Homo sapiens: one gene and its partners. The protein of the gene in region 3 purifies or fractionates together with the protein of the main gene of each other region. This does not show direct contact. Each region holds a gene or a part of one and is shown on either strand. Other genes may lie near its edges.

Region 1 (3,500 bases), on a different chromosome or scaffold from region 3:
TCTGAAGGGGCTGTGTGCAGGAGCCAGCCGGGCTGAGGCTCTGGGGAGCCCGCCTCTCCCTGTGGGCCCAGCGTCCTGGTATCTCCCTTGTGGTCCCTGAGATCAGCGTTGCCCTCCTGGCTCTCTGGGGCCCTCTGCAGAGCCAGGGTCATGAAACCTTTCCTGTCCAGGGAGGCCCATGTGCAGCCCAGCTGGGACTTCCTGCCCTGCCCCTGTGCTGATTCTGTAACTCCTGTGCTGAGAGCCAGAGGCACAGCTTGTCTCCCATCTCCCACCTTCCCTGCATGGTCTGTGCCCCGTTTCCAGCCGGGTGCAGCCCCCTCCTCTGCAGATCTAGTGCATTTCCATGCTGCCTCTGGGCCTTCAGCTTCTCTGTCTTCCTCCCTCAGCACCAAAGCCCCGTCTCTTCCATTAGGAGCTTGTCTTCCTGCTGGGGGTGGTACCTGACTCTTTGGCCCACCCTCGGGCCTCTGTGGAGGCCTCCTTGAGGCCTGACTGGGTGGGTCTTGTGTGGGCTGCAGGTGTGCACTGGGCCTGCTTGTGGCCAGGCCAGGCCTCTGGGGGCAGCATCAGGCACGTCTGTGTGGCTGTGGGGGTGCAGGGAGCTCCAGCCCAGAAGGAAGGAGGGGCGGGGCTGGGGAAGGGGCTCGGCAGCTTTGCCTGTGGTCGTCCGCACCTGCCACCGGCCTACTTTGTCCTAGACCTCCCTTTTGCAAAAGTGCTCAGAAATATAAATATTTAATTTAAAAATGAAAGTCTCTTCCTGCTGCCAAGCTCTTATCCTTTAAATATTAAATAAGCTCTATTTATAAAGAATGTTCTTTTCTCAGCCGGGGGTGGTGGCTCATGCCTGTAATCCCAGCACTTTGGGAGGCCAAGGCGGGCGGATCATGAGGTCAGGAGATCGAGACCATCCTGGCTAACACAGTGAAATCCCGTCTCTACTAAAAATACAAAAAATTAGCCAGGTATGGTGGTGGGCACCTGTAGTCCCAGCTAATTGGGAGGCTGAGGCAAGAGAATGGCGTGAACCCGGGAGGCAGAGCTTGCAGTGAGCCGAGATCTCACCACTGCACTCCAGCCTGGGCGACAAAACAAGACTCCGTCTCAGAAAAAAAAAAAAAAAAAAGTGTTCTTTTCTCCTTCTTGCCAGTCCTGCTGTGGCTGAGGCCTTGGCCCAGGCTTGGAAGGGGCCTGCGCAATGGGCAAGTGGGGGCCAAGGTGTCACTCACTGTCTCCTTAGTGGGGAGGCTGAGGCTCCCTTGGGGTCTGCCCGCTGGGGCACAGCCTCTGGATGCTGAGTTTCTTCCTGGGCGGCCAAGACCCTGCTTCCCTGTTTGCTCTTGGGGGTGCCTGTGCCCTCAACTTGACGCCATCCTCCCTCTGGGGACCTGTCCTCCTGCCTGGTCGCTGTGGCCCTGATGGGCTTGGCACTGTCTCGCTCACCTGTGGTCATCCCGGGCAGCCCCCAGCCTCTGCGATGGGGTGGGGCCTCTGGAGGGGACTGTGTCAGCTGTGGGCTTCCCTGCAGGGCTGGAGCCGAATCAGGGTCTGCCAGGCCTCAGTGCGTCCACGTGTTTGGGGCCGAGGGCTCCAGTGGGTCCTGTGGCCGAGGTAGTGAGAGGGGAGGAAGATGGTAGAGGTGGGTGCAGGCAGGGGGCCACGCGGATGCCCTGTGGGCCCGGCCATGTCACCCAGGCCTGCAGAGAGAGGCCTCCAGACCAGCCTCCTCAGACCCCAATCCCGGAGCCATCTGTGAAGGGGAGCCCGTGTGCTGTCCACGCTAGGACGCGGTAGACCCTGGAGGAGGGAAGGCTGGCCAAGGTGGGAGCCCATCACGAAAGAGCCTGGGGAGATGCAGGTGCTGAGCCTGGCTGCCCCCGCCCCAGCGTGGCCCCTGTGTCCCTGCAGCACGTGGCCGAGGAGCTCCAGCATCTGCTGCAGTGGCTGATGGGTGCTCCCGCCGGGCTCAAGATGAACCGTGCACTGGACCAGGTGCTGGGCCGCTTCTTCCTCTACCACATCCACCTGTGGATCAGTGAGTGCAGGGCAGGCGGGGGCCCCAGGGACCCCAGAGCTTGCTGAAGAGGGTAGGGACCCAGCCAGACCCCGCCCCCTGTGCCCCCAACTCTGCTCCCCAGCGTCCTGTGTGTGTGAGGCCTGCTGTGCTCAGCTGAGGGCTGGGGCCTGGGCACCTCCCGAGGGCTGACCCCACCCTGCCAGGCTACACGCACCTCATGTCCTGTGTGTGTGAGGGTTGTGCTGGGCCGAGGGCTGGGGTCTGAGCGCCTCCTGAGGGCCTACCCCACCCTGCCAGGCTACATCCACCTCATGTCCCCCTTCGTGGAGCACATCCTTTGGCACGTGGGCCTCTCGGCCTGCCTGGGCCTGACGGTGGCCCTGTCCCTCCTCTCGGACATTATCGCCCTCCTCACCTTCCACATCTACTGCTTTTACGTCTATGGAGCCAGGTGGGCGTGGGCTTCCCCCTCCCCACCGCCCCCTGGGAGGTGCAGAGGCTCCGGCTGGGCGGGCGTTCGAGTGGGGCGGGGGCGGGGCGGGGCGGGGCGGGGCCGGGCCCGACAGCACTGCGTCCTGTAGGCTGTACTGCCTGAAGATCCATGGCCTGTCCTCACTGTGGCGTCTGTTCCGGGGGAAGAAGTGGAACGTTCTGCGCCAGCGCGTGGACTCCTGTTCCTATGACCTGGACCAGGTATGGGGCAGGGTTCGTGGCTGGAGGGGCTGACTGCCTCCGGCCTGTGCCCGCTGGGCCAGCGCGGTGCTTGGGCACCACAAGGGGGCAGCCTGCTCCCGTCCTGCAGCTGAGGCCGCGCACAGGCCCTGGGAATAGATAAGTCTGCGGTGTGGGCTGCACGTGGGGCTCTGAAGCAGCGCAGAGCTTCCCTGGGCCACAGAGAAGAGACAGACACACAGCCCCGAAGGTGGTGCAGGCACAGGCCCTAGAGGTGCCCCGGGCCCAGAGACTAGAGATGCCCCGGGCCCGGAGACTAGAGGTGCCCCGGGCCCGGAGACTAGAGGTGCCCCGGGCCCGGAGACTAGAGGTGCCCCGGGCCCGGAGACTAGAGGTGCCCCGGGCCCGGAGACTTGAGGTGCCCCGGGCCCGGAGACTAGAGGTGCCCCGGGCCCGGAGACTAGAGGTGCCCCGGGCCCGGAGACTAGAGGTGCCCCGGGCCCGGAGACTAGAGGTGCCCCGGGCCCGGAGACTTGAGGTGCCCCGGGCCCGGAGACTAGAGGTGCCCCGGGCCCGGAGACTTGAGGTGCCCCGGGCCCGGAGACTAGAGGTGCCCCGGGCCCGGAGACTAGAGGTGCCCCGGGCCCGGAGACTTGAGGTGCCCCGGGCCCGGAGACTAGAGGTGCCCGGGCTCGGAGACTAGAGTTGCCCGGGCCCGTCTGCTGCTCACACTTGCCGCAGCCGCTGGATGCTGCCATGCAGAGCATGTTCTTGGTGACTGTGTGGCCACGCACCGTCTTGGGTGGTC
Region 2 (3,500 bases), on a different chromosome or scaffold from region 3:
CTGCAGACAACTTATTTTTCCAAGCAAGTACAAAAGCAAACAACTGCCATCTATTACCTACCATCTACAAAAGAACATGTTATATCAAAATAATTTATACCAAAATACCATAGTTTCAGATTAAATGACAATCATTCTGGCCGCGCGCAGTGGCTCACACCTGTAATCCCAGCACTTTGGGAGGCTGAGGTGGGTGGATCATCTGAGGTCAGGAGTTTGAGACCAGCCTGGTCAACATGGTGAAACACTGTCTCTACTAAAAAAACAAAAATTAGCCAGGTGTGGTGGTGCATGCCTGTAATCTCAGTGACTTGGGAGGCTGAGGCAGGAGAATCGCTTGAACCCGGGAGGTGGAGGCTGTAGTGAGCCGAGATTGTGCCATTGCACTCCAGCCTGGATGACAGAGTAAGAATCTGTCTCAAAAAAAATAAAAAGGCAATTGTTCCTCAAAAGGTTAGCAACCTTACGTTAACTGTATTTAGACATAACACATCATTTCTCACTTTACTACAGACCAATAAAAATGGCATAGTGTCCTAAGAGACTTCACTATTAACACCTGTAATACTTCATTCTACTCCTTTGTATACACATCTACCTCTGTTTACTAGGTGATAAATTCTTCAGGAGTAAAGTTTGTAACTTCTTAATCTTTGTATCTGTCATATACAGTACAGCACCTGGAACAACATAGTTGCCCAACAAATGTTTGTTAAAAGTCTAATGAAGGGAAAGAAATAGAGAAAGAAAATAAAAGGGCTAAAAAAAGAGGGCAAACAATGAGAGAAAATCTTTGGAAAACAGCCACCAACTTGTAATTGAAGCTGAAGATGGATTAGTGATCTCTAAGCCAAAAGGATTCTTGACTTGTCTCATTTGCTTTTTGAAAACTCTTGTGCTGAACTGGGTCTCTTCTGAATTTCTCAGAATTACTGGAACATCCCAACCAAACCTAAAAAAAGGTAAAAAATAAAATATTATTTTAACAAATGTTGAAACTTTATGTTATGTGTAAAATCTGTTGTGCTTCATTAGCGATTCCTTTTAGCATTAAGTGTCAGAAAGAGGTTAAATTTCTCAATTTACGTTATTTTAGAGATCCCACAGAACTGCAAAACAGTTGGCCCTCTGTATGAACCAAGTGCACATCAAAAATATTTGGGGACGAGGGGGAAGAATAAAAAATAACAATAAAAAATACTACAAATTCAAAACCAATACAGTATAACAACTGTTTACACAGCATTTACATTAGGTGTAAGTAATCTAGAGATAATTTGAAGTGTACAGAAGGACGTGTGTAGGTTATATGCAAATACTATGTAATGTTATATAAGGGACTTAAGCATCCTAGAATATGGGGGGTGGGTATCCTAGAATCAATCCCCCTCAGATATCAAGGAAGGACTAGGTATTGTTCAGCTGGCTGAATCAACACATTCTTGAAAACAAAGAGTTCTATTGTTAATACTGTTGATAACACCAAAGGAGTATGGAGATTATAGATAAATTATACTTAATTTAACAGCAAACACATGATGAACTTATTGAATTTTTTTAAATGTGAAAAAGAAATATATATTCAAGAGGCAGACTATTGGCCGGGTGTGGTGGCTCATGCCTGTAATCCCAGCACTTTGGGAGGCCAAGGTGGGAGGATCACTTGAGGTCAGGAGTTCGAGACCAGCCTGGCCAAAACATAGTGAAACCCTGTCATTAATAAAAATACAAAAATTAGCTGGGCATGGTGGCGTGGACCTGTAGACCCAGCTACTTGGGAAGCTGAGGCAGGAGACTGGCTTGAACCCGGAAGGCAGAGGTTGCAGTGAGCCGAGATCGTGCCACTGGACTCCAGCCTGGGCAACAGAGCAAGATTTCGTCTCTCAAAAGAAAAAAGAGGCAGACTAATATGATTTATGGGACAACGGAACTTTTTTTTTTTTTGAGATGGAGTTTCATTCTTGTTGCCCAGGCTGGAGTGCAATGGCGTGATCTTGGCTCACTATAACCTCTGCCTCCCGGGTTAAAGCAATTCTCCTGCCTCAGCCTCCCAAGTAGCTGAGATTACAGGCATGTGCCACCATGCCCAGGTAATTTTTGTATTTTTAGTAGAGACGGGGTTTCACCATATTGACCAGGCTGGTCTCGAACTCCTGACCTTAGGTGATCCGCCCACCTCAGCCTCCCAAAGTGCTGGGATTACAGGCGTGAGCCACCATACCCAGCCAGGACAATGGAACTTTTAAAACACCAACTATAGCTCTTCATTTATATATCTTCTACTTTTAAATTTCATGTAAAAATGTAAACTCTGACAATGCCCATGGAACAGAATTAAAAGGAAAATGAAAGGGGCTAAATTCAATTCCCAATAAAATTAAAAAACAGCTACTTTACTCAATTTACATAAAATAATCTAAAATTAATACACACCAGTTAAACTAGGAAATTTTAGTTAAAGACGGCACAGTTAGGAGCCTATTTGATGCACTCCCTTCTCTCCAAATACATATCAGTGATAGATAAAAAAGAAAAAGAAAAATTAAAAAGACCCCACAGATACCTGAGTCCCATATGCTTTAAGAAAAAAGAAAGACTCCGCTGAAATGAGTAAACAAACTGTGGTATATTTAAAGAAAAGAATAGAAGTATTCAGCAGTGAAAAGGAACAACTTATTACTACAATCAAATGGATAAATTTCAGAAACATCGTGCTATGCAAAAGAAGCCTTACACAAAAGAATAAATGCTGTATCCTTCTCTAATATAAAATTCTAGAGCAGGCACAACAAATTTATGGTAGAAATAAAAATGAGAACAATGGTTGCTTCCGGAAGTACAGGAGTAGGACTGACTGGGAAAGAGCATAAGAAAATTGACGGTAACGTTCAGTATCTTGACAGAGGCTTAAGCTGTATAGATGATGTGTTTGATAACACTTGGTAAATGGTACACTTAAGATTTGTACATCTTGGCCGGGTGCGGTGGCTCACACCTGTAATCCCAGCACTTTGGGAGGCCGAGGCGGATGGATCATGAGGCCAGGAGATCGAGACCGTCCTGATTAACACAGTGAAATCCCGTCTCTACTAAAAATACACACACACACACATACACACACACACACAAATTAGCCAGGCGTGGTGGTGGGCGCCTGCAGTCCCAGCTACTCGGGAGGCTGAAGCAGGAGAATGGCGTGAACCTGGGAGTCTGAGCTTGCAGTGAGCCAAGATCGCGCCATTGCACTCCAGCCTGAGCGACAGAGCAAGACTCCATCTCAAAAAAAATAAATAAATAAAAAATAAGATTTGTGTATCTTATATGTAAATGTTACTTCAAAAAACTATAAACGAAAACAAACACTGAACTCTAATCAGTAATATGTAATGTTTTAGAACTTACAGGTGAAGAGTACAACTCACTTTGAAGGGCATCGTGAAATAAGATAGACCAATGTATGGATAAAAGAGTGGATTAATGTGGACAGATATGTAATAGAG
Region 3 (3,500 bases):
TTAAGGTAGATTCTGTGCATTTGTGGTCGTGGTGTTGTGATTGTTAATGAGTCACTTTGAGTACTCTAGTAGATTTGTCCAACAGTGTCTCAGTGGGCCCAGCTGGCACAACATGTAGAAATTATGAAAGAGTAGCAGAGATGAATTAAGTTTGCATTCACTTTCACTTATTTTAAAGCAATTTGTAGTCACCAAACCTTCAGTTATTTCTGCCACTATGTGTGCATATTCACCCTAATTCCAGGTATAGTGACCTGAAAGAGTTAATTCTTCTTTCAGTGGCACCTACTTTTATTTCCCCCAGCACTGATTTTTCTATCTGATGACTCTATCCTGGAACAGAGTTTACACTCGTTGTAAAGTGACATAGTAGTGAATTTATAAAAATTGCACAATGGTCAGAATAGACAAAGAAATCATATCTATGAGCTTCCACTCCAGTTTTTCATCCTCTGATGGTCACTTTATAATGACTGGGGCTGTTTTAGTTTGCAAATTTCATATTGGTCACAGGACTCTTCTTCTGAGAAAAAGTTTATTTTCTTTGGTCTGATGATACAATAATTTATTTCAATTACCTCTTTCCTCAATTTTTCTACAGACTGCTGAGCCAGATGGAATTATGGCTGAGCTCTTCTCTGTTTCTGTATCTTGTACACATTCTGACTGAAGAAGAAATCTATTTATTGTAGCTTGAATGTCATTGGCCTACTGTTTCCTTCTGACCCAGGAGTGAGCCATCACATGGGCATCTGGTCTAACTCAGAACACTCTGCAGGGACACAGCCTGGCATATTATAGGTTGCCTATTGGCATGCTGTCTACTTGACAGAATAGCAAAGTCAGTTCTGGGTACTTGCTTGTTGCCTACCAATTTTTGCTCTCAATGAGAGGTCAGAATAATGTCAATTTGCAAATGTTTGAGGAAACATTCCTGTCACCAAACCCAGAGGTTTAGCTGAATATGATGGCATTTTACAGGTGTCTTTAAATGTGGCTTTTACAGAACTTCACCTGGATCAATGTTTTGTGCATGTGATAATACAACTATAAATTTAGCTTATTAATATGATAATATTTGGAGCAGTATAATCTATAACCATGACTTCAAAAATCAAAGGTTAAAAGTATTCTTTTGCAGTGTTTTAAATCTGCTAACCTGAAAACTATACAAGGGTTTTTCTTTCAAGAATTTTAACTTGACAAATGCAAAGGAATATCCAACATTGCAAAGGTAAAGAGAAATCTTAGTTCCTTGGCATATAAGCACCATCAGTTCCTTTCTGGCCTTCCAGGGTCAGAACTCTGGGCTCCAAGGAGGTACAACTGTGAGTGAGAGAGTAGCTGCTGTGCTAGCAGGCTATGCATCCAGAACTAAACAGACCTAGCACTTTCTGTTGTACTGGAACCCATTAGGTATGTTCTAAAGTTATGTTTATTTTACTTTCCTGGTTTGTAAATTAGCATTTTAAATGACTACATTCAGAGGAAAGTATTCCACCCAGAATTCTCAAATGTATTACCTTTGTGTTTTATTTTATTTTAGTTTTTTTGAGACGGAGTTTTGCTCTTGTTGCCCAGGCTGGAGTGCAATGGCATGATCTTGGCTCACTGCAACCTCTGCCTCCAGGGTTCAAGCGATTCTCCTGCCTCAACCTCCCGAGTAGCTGAGATTACAGGCATGCGCCACCATGCCTGGCTAATTTTGTATTTTTGGGTTTCACCATGTTGTTCAAGCTGCTCTCGAACTCCTGTCTCCACCTTGGCCTCCCAAAGTGCTGGGATTACAGGTATGAGCCACTGCGCCCAGCCCTCATTTTGATATACTAGAAGACCAATATGCAACATAATGATTATTTTAAATGTTATATTCCCTTTTGCCTTAATGCGGAACAGTCTATGTATCCCTTTTCTGATGATTTGTAACAAATTACCACAAGTAAGTTGTTTAAAACACCACCTATTTGTTATCTCACAGTCCTGTACCATGTGGCTGAGTTGTCCGCTCAGGTATTCTCAAGGCTGAAATGAACACAGCTGGGCTGTGTTGTCCTTTGCAGGCTCTTAGGAAGAATCTACTATCGAGCTCATTCAGATTGTTGGCAGAATCCAGTTGTTTGGGGACTGAGATCTCTGTTTTCCTACTTACTATTGGCCTGGGGTCACTCTCAGTTCCTAGAGAACTGAGGACTCAGGACTCTTGTCCCATGGTCTGCTCCATCTTCATGGCTGGCACTGGAGAATCTTCCCTCACATGGAATCCCTCTTATGCTTCAGATCTCTCTGATTTCTGTCTCTGACCTCTAGACCCAGATTTAAAGAGCTCATGTGATTATGTCAGTCCCATCCAGATGATCTCCCTTTCTTAAAGCCAACTGTGCTACATAGCATAATGTAATCATGGGAATAAGATCCATCACAATCACAGTCTTGGAGACTATTCAGGGTGTGCACACCAGGATATAGGGATCTTGGGGCCATCTTGGAATTCTGCCTATCAGTTTATATCAATGTTCATAAAATAGCACTATGCAAAATCTGCAGTGGATATATTCTTAATACAGTCCTATTAGGAAGGAAAAGGAGATATTATATGCAGTCTCATGTCCCAGAGGGCAATTTGTTGATGTCTTCCACATGGATTTCCATGGTACGAAGATAGCATATTATTTCATTGAGTAGTTGTGTGAGTTTATTAATAAAATAGGGTATTTTAAACTTATTTTACTTTAAATCTTAGAAGAGGTGATTCATCCTTCTGTAGCTCAAATATTCTATGTCATAAATCACAGATAATACCATTACAAGATAAATTAAATCTTTTTTATAATTTTAATAGGAACTGAAGTGTATTCTTATTCTTCAGTAATACTACATCACCCATATGGACTACCTAATTGATTTTTTCCACATATGGAGTTTTGTGACCATTATTCTACCAAAAGACTAACCTTTGAAGCAATAGGACATATTAGAGTTCTTCACCAATAGAAAGTAAGCATAGTCCTGGGAGGTACCATCTAAGTATTAAAGAACTAAATAATCACAGTTATTTCAACTGTGATTGAAATTGTGATAGTAATATATGTCTTACTGTGTCAGATATATCAGTAGTCAACTTTTCAACTTGAATTTTTCCAAGTTTAATCAAGTTCTGGATGAAACTCATGTACATTTTACTACTTTTAGTTTTGTATTGTTTTAAATCAATATCCTGGAAACTCAGAAGTAAAAAAGAGAAAGAAGAAAAATATATGTCATTTCATGTAAATTTATTTAAAACACAGACTTTTGGCAAGGCACAGTGGCTCAAGCCTGTAATCCCAGCACTTTGGGAGGCCGAGGAGGGTGGATTGCCTGAGGTCAGGTGTTCAAGACCAGCCTGGCCAACATGGTGAAACCCCATCTCTACTAAAAATTCAAAAATTAGCCAGGTACGGTGGCAGATGCCTGTAATCCCAGCTACTAGGGAGGCTGGGGAAGAAGAATTGCTTGAATCC
Region 4 (3,500 bases), on a different chromosome or scaffold from region 3:
GCTGAGGCAGGAGAATTGCTTGAACCTGGGAGGCGGAGGTTGCAGTGAGCCGACATCATGCCACTGCACTCCAGCCTGGGCAACAGAGCAATATTCCGTCTCAAAAAAAAAAGGTATAGAAATTTTAAGTGTTCTGTCTGATGAATGTTCACAAACTGAATGTACACATGTAATCAGCACTGAGATCAAGAAACAGTATATGACTGGCATCCCAGGAGCCCCCTCATGCCCCCTTCCAATCACTGTCACTCTCCAAGGGTTACACAATCCTAATTTCTAACACCATGGATTACTTTTGCCTATTTTTGAACATTTTGTACTGTATGTCTGGCTTCCTCACTTTACACAATTTGTTTTGTTTTGTTTTTTTGTGATGGAGTCTCGCTCTGTCACCCAGACTGGAGTGCAATGGCGTGATTTCAGCTCACTGCAACCTCCATCTCCTGGGTTCAAGCAATTCTCCTGCCTCAGCCTCCCGAGTAGCTGGGATTACAGGTGCACACCACCATGCCCAGCTAATTTTTGTATTTTTGTAGAGATGGGGTTTCACCATGTTGGCCGGGCTGGTCTTGAACTCCTGACCTCAAGTGATCTGCCCGCCTTGGCCTCCCAAAGTTCTGGGATTATAGGTGTAAGCCACTGCACCCGGCCAGACAATGTTTATGAGATTCATTAATATTATTGTGTGTAGTTGACGATGGTTCGATTCTCATTGCTATATAGAATTCCACTGTGTGAATATACTACTTTTTAAAAACATCCATTCTACTACTGGGGTGTTTGGGTAGTTCTGGAGTTTGTCTATTATGAGAATTATTGCTGTGAACATCCTTGTGCATGTCTTTCAGAGCACATTATCTCATGCACATTGCTGTTGGGTAGATGCCTGGGAGCAGGTTTTCTGGGCGTGCATATGTTCAGCTTGGGTAGCTGTTGCCAAACAGTTGTCCAAAGCGGTCATATGAGATTTCTAGTTGCTCTACTTTTTTACCAACACTTGGTATGTTTTATTTTTTTTCATTTTAGCCATTCTAGTGCATGTGTCATAGTAGCATATTGTGGTCTTAATTTGCATTTCCTCGCTGACTAATGAATATAAGCACTTTTTCACGTGTTTATTGGCTGTTTGGACAGCCTCTTTTATGAGATGCCTACTTAAGTCTTTTGTCCGTATTTGTATTCAGTTGTCTGACTTTCTTACTGACTTACAGGATTTCTTTACATGGTTTTTTTTTTTGGTTTTTTTTTTTTGAGATGGAGTCTTGCTCTGTCACCCAGGCTAGAATGCAGTGGCGCAATCTCGGCTCACTGCAATCTCCGCCTCCTGAGTTCAAGTGATTCTCCTGCCTCACCCTCCCAAGTAGCTGGGATTACTTACAGGCATGCGCCACCATGCCCGGCTAATTTTTGTATTTTTAGTATAGACGAGGTTTCACCAGTTTGGCCAGGCTGGTCTCGAACTCTTGACCTGAGGTCATCCACCTGCCTCGGCCTCCCAAAGTGCTGGAATTACAGGCTTAAGCCAAGGCGCCCAGCCCTTTACATATTCTTCATACAAGTCCTTTGTCTTTGTTTACAAGATGTAAACATCTTGTAATTATCCATTCCTGCTCTAAAGGTTACTTCTTCATTCTTTTTTTTTTTTTTTTTTTTTTTTTTTTTTTTGAGACAGTCTCTCTCTGTCACCCAGGCTGGAGTGCAGTGGCATGATTTCAGCTCACTGTAACCCCCACCTCCCTGGTTCAAGTGATTTTCATGCCTCAGCCTCTTGAGTAGCTGGGATTACAGGCGCCCACCACCACACCCAGCTAATTTTTGTATTTTTAGTAAAGATGGGATTTCACCATGTTGGCCAGGCTGGTATCGAACTCCCAACCTCAGGTGATCTGCCTGCCTTAGCCTCCCAAATTGCTGGGATTACAGGCTTGAGCCACCGCGCCCGGCCTCATTCTTTTTTTTAATCATCCAGCCCCAAAAAACTCTTCATTCTCTTAATGATTACCTTTAAATGAAAAAAAAATTTAATTTTGATATAATGCAGTTTATCAAATTGCTCTTTTATGATTAGCCCCTTTGTGTCTTTTGTTTGTTTGAGACAGGGTCTTGTTCTGTTGGAAAGGCTGGAGTACAGTGGCACAATCATGGCTCACTGCAGCCCCAAACTCCTGAGCTCAGGCAATCCTCCTGCCTCAGCCTCCTGAGAAGCTGGGACCACAGGCATGAGCAACCATGCCCAGCCACCTCCATATGAGTTTTGGAATGAGTTTGTCAATTTTCACAAAAACAACCTACTGGGATTTTTGACTAGGATTATGTTGAATCTGTGGATTAGGGAGAATAAATCCTTTCATAATATTCAGTCTTCCAATCCATGAATATGCTATATCTCTGCCTTTTTTTCTCTTAAATTTCTTTTGTGTGTGTGTATATATATATGTGTGTGTATATATATGTGTGTATATATATACATGTATATATGTCTATATATACACATATATCTATATACATACATATATACACGTATATACATATATATGTGTATATAGAGAGAGAGATATATAGATATATATCTCTATAGAGATATATGTGTGTGTGTGTGTGTGTATATATATATATATATATATTTTTTTTTTTTTTTTTTTTTTTTTTTTTTTTTTGAGGCAGAGTCTCGCTCTGTCTCCCAGGCTGGAGTGCAGTGGCCCAATCTCGGCTCACTGCAAGCTCTGCCTCCCGGGTTGACGCCATTCTCCTGCCTCAGCCTCCCGAGTAGCTGGGACTACAGGCGCCCGCCACCATGCCCGGCTGATTTTTTTGTATTTTTAGTAGAGACGGGGTTTCACTGTGTTAATCAGGATGGTCTCCTGACCTCATGATCCGCCTGCCTCGGCCTCCCAAAGTGCTGGGATTACAGGCGTGAGCCACCATGCCCAGCCTTAAATTTCTTATTATGAAAATTTCAAACACACAGAAAAAGCAGGAAGGATTATAGTACAACTAATTCCTGTACATTCACCATCTAGATTGAATAGTAGTTGATAGTGCATCTTATTTGCATATATATGTTTGTTCTTCTCAAACTATTTCATAGTAAATTATAGACATCATAGATACTTTACCTATAAATATTTCAACATATGTCTTAAAAATCTAAGGATAATCTCCTACATAATCACAATTCCATTATCATACCTAAGAAAATTCATTGTTCCTAATTTTTTTTTTTTTCGAGACAGAGTCTCCCACCGTCGCCCAGGCTGGAGTGCAGTGGCATGATCTCGGCTCACTGCAAGCTCCGCCTCCCGGGTTCAAGCGATTCTCCTGCCTCAGCCTCCCGAGTAGCTGGGACTACAGGCACACGCCACCACAACCGGTTAATTTTTTGTATTTTTAGTAGAGACGGGGTTTCACCGTGTTGGTCAGGATGGTCTCGATCTCCTGACCTCATGATCCGCCCGCCTCGGCCCCCCAAAGTGCTGGGGTTACAGATGTGAGCCACCACA

What was found.
Region 1: the proteins of PCDHAC2 (region 3) and PIGQ purify together in Homo sapiens (affinity purification with mass spectrometry; 2 studies listed by BioGRID and IntAct, with this or other methods). This does not show direct contact.
Region 2: the proteins of PCDHAC2 (region 3) and CGRRF1 purify together in Homo sapiens (affinity purification with mass spectrometry; 2 studies listed by BioGRID and IntAct, with this or other methods). This does not show direct contact.
Region 4: the proteins of PCDHAC2 (region 3) and ZDHHC18 purify together in Homo sapiens (affinity purification with mass spectrometry; 2 studies listed by BioGRID and IntAct, with this or other methods). This does not show direct contact.

What each region holds. Positions count from the first base shown.
Region 1 is NC_000016.10:576,468-579,967, forward strand, and holds part of PIGQ (phosphatidylinositol N-acetylglucosaminyltransferase subunit Q), read left to right. Parts: intron 1-1,911; coding exon 1,912-2,038; intron 2,039-2,317; coding exon 2,318-2,471; intron 2,472-2,601; coding exon 2,602-2,713; intron 2,714-3,500. UniProt on the Homo sapiens protein: Part of the glycosylphosphatidylinositol-N-acetylglucosaminyltransferase (GPI-GnT) complex that catalyzes the transfer of N-acetylglucosamine from UDP-N-acetylglucosamine to phosphatidylinositol and participates in the first step of GPI biosynthesis.
Region 2 is NC_000014.9:54,519,906-54,523,405, reverse strand, and holds part of CGRRF1 (cell growth regulator with RING finger domain protein 1), read right to left. Parts: intron 953-3,500; coding exon 813-952; intron 1-812. UniProt on the Homo sapiens protein: Able to inhibit growth in several cell lines.
Region 3 is NC_000005.10:140,972,976-140,976,475, forward strand, and holds part of PCDHAC2 (protocadherin alpha-C2 isoform 1 precursor), read left to right. Parts: intron 1-3,500. UniProt on the Homo sapiens protein: Potential calcium-dependent cell-adhesion protein. May be involved in the establishment and maintenance of specific neuronal connections in the brain.
Region 4 is NC_000001.11:26,843,688-26,847,187, forward strand, and holds part of ZDHHC18 (palmitoyltransferase ZDHHC18), read left to right. Parts: intron 1-3,500. UniProt on the Homo sapiens protein: Palmitoyltransferase that catalyzes the addition of palmitate onto various protein substrates, such as CGAS, HRAS and LCK. Acts as a negative regulator of the cGAS-STING pathway be mediating palmitoylation and inactivation of CGAS.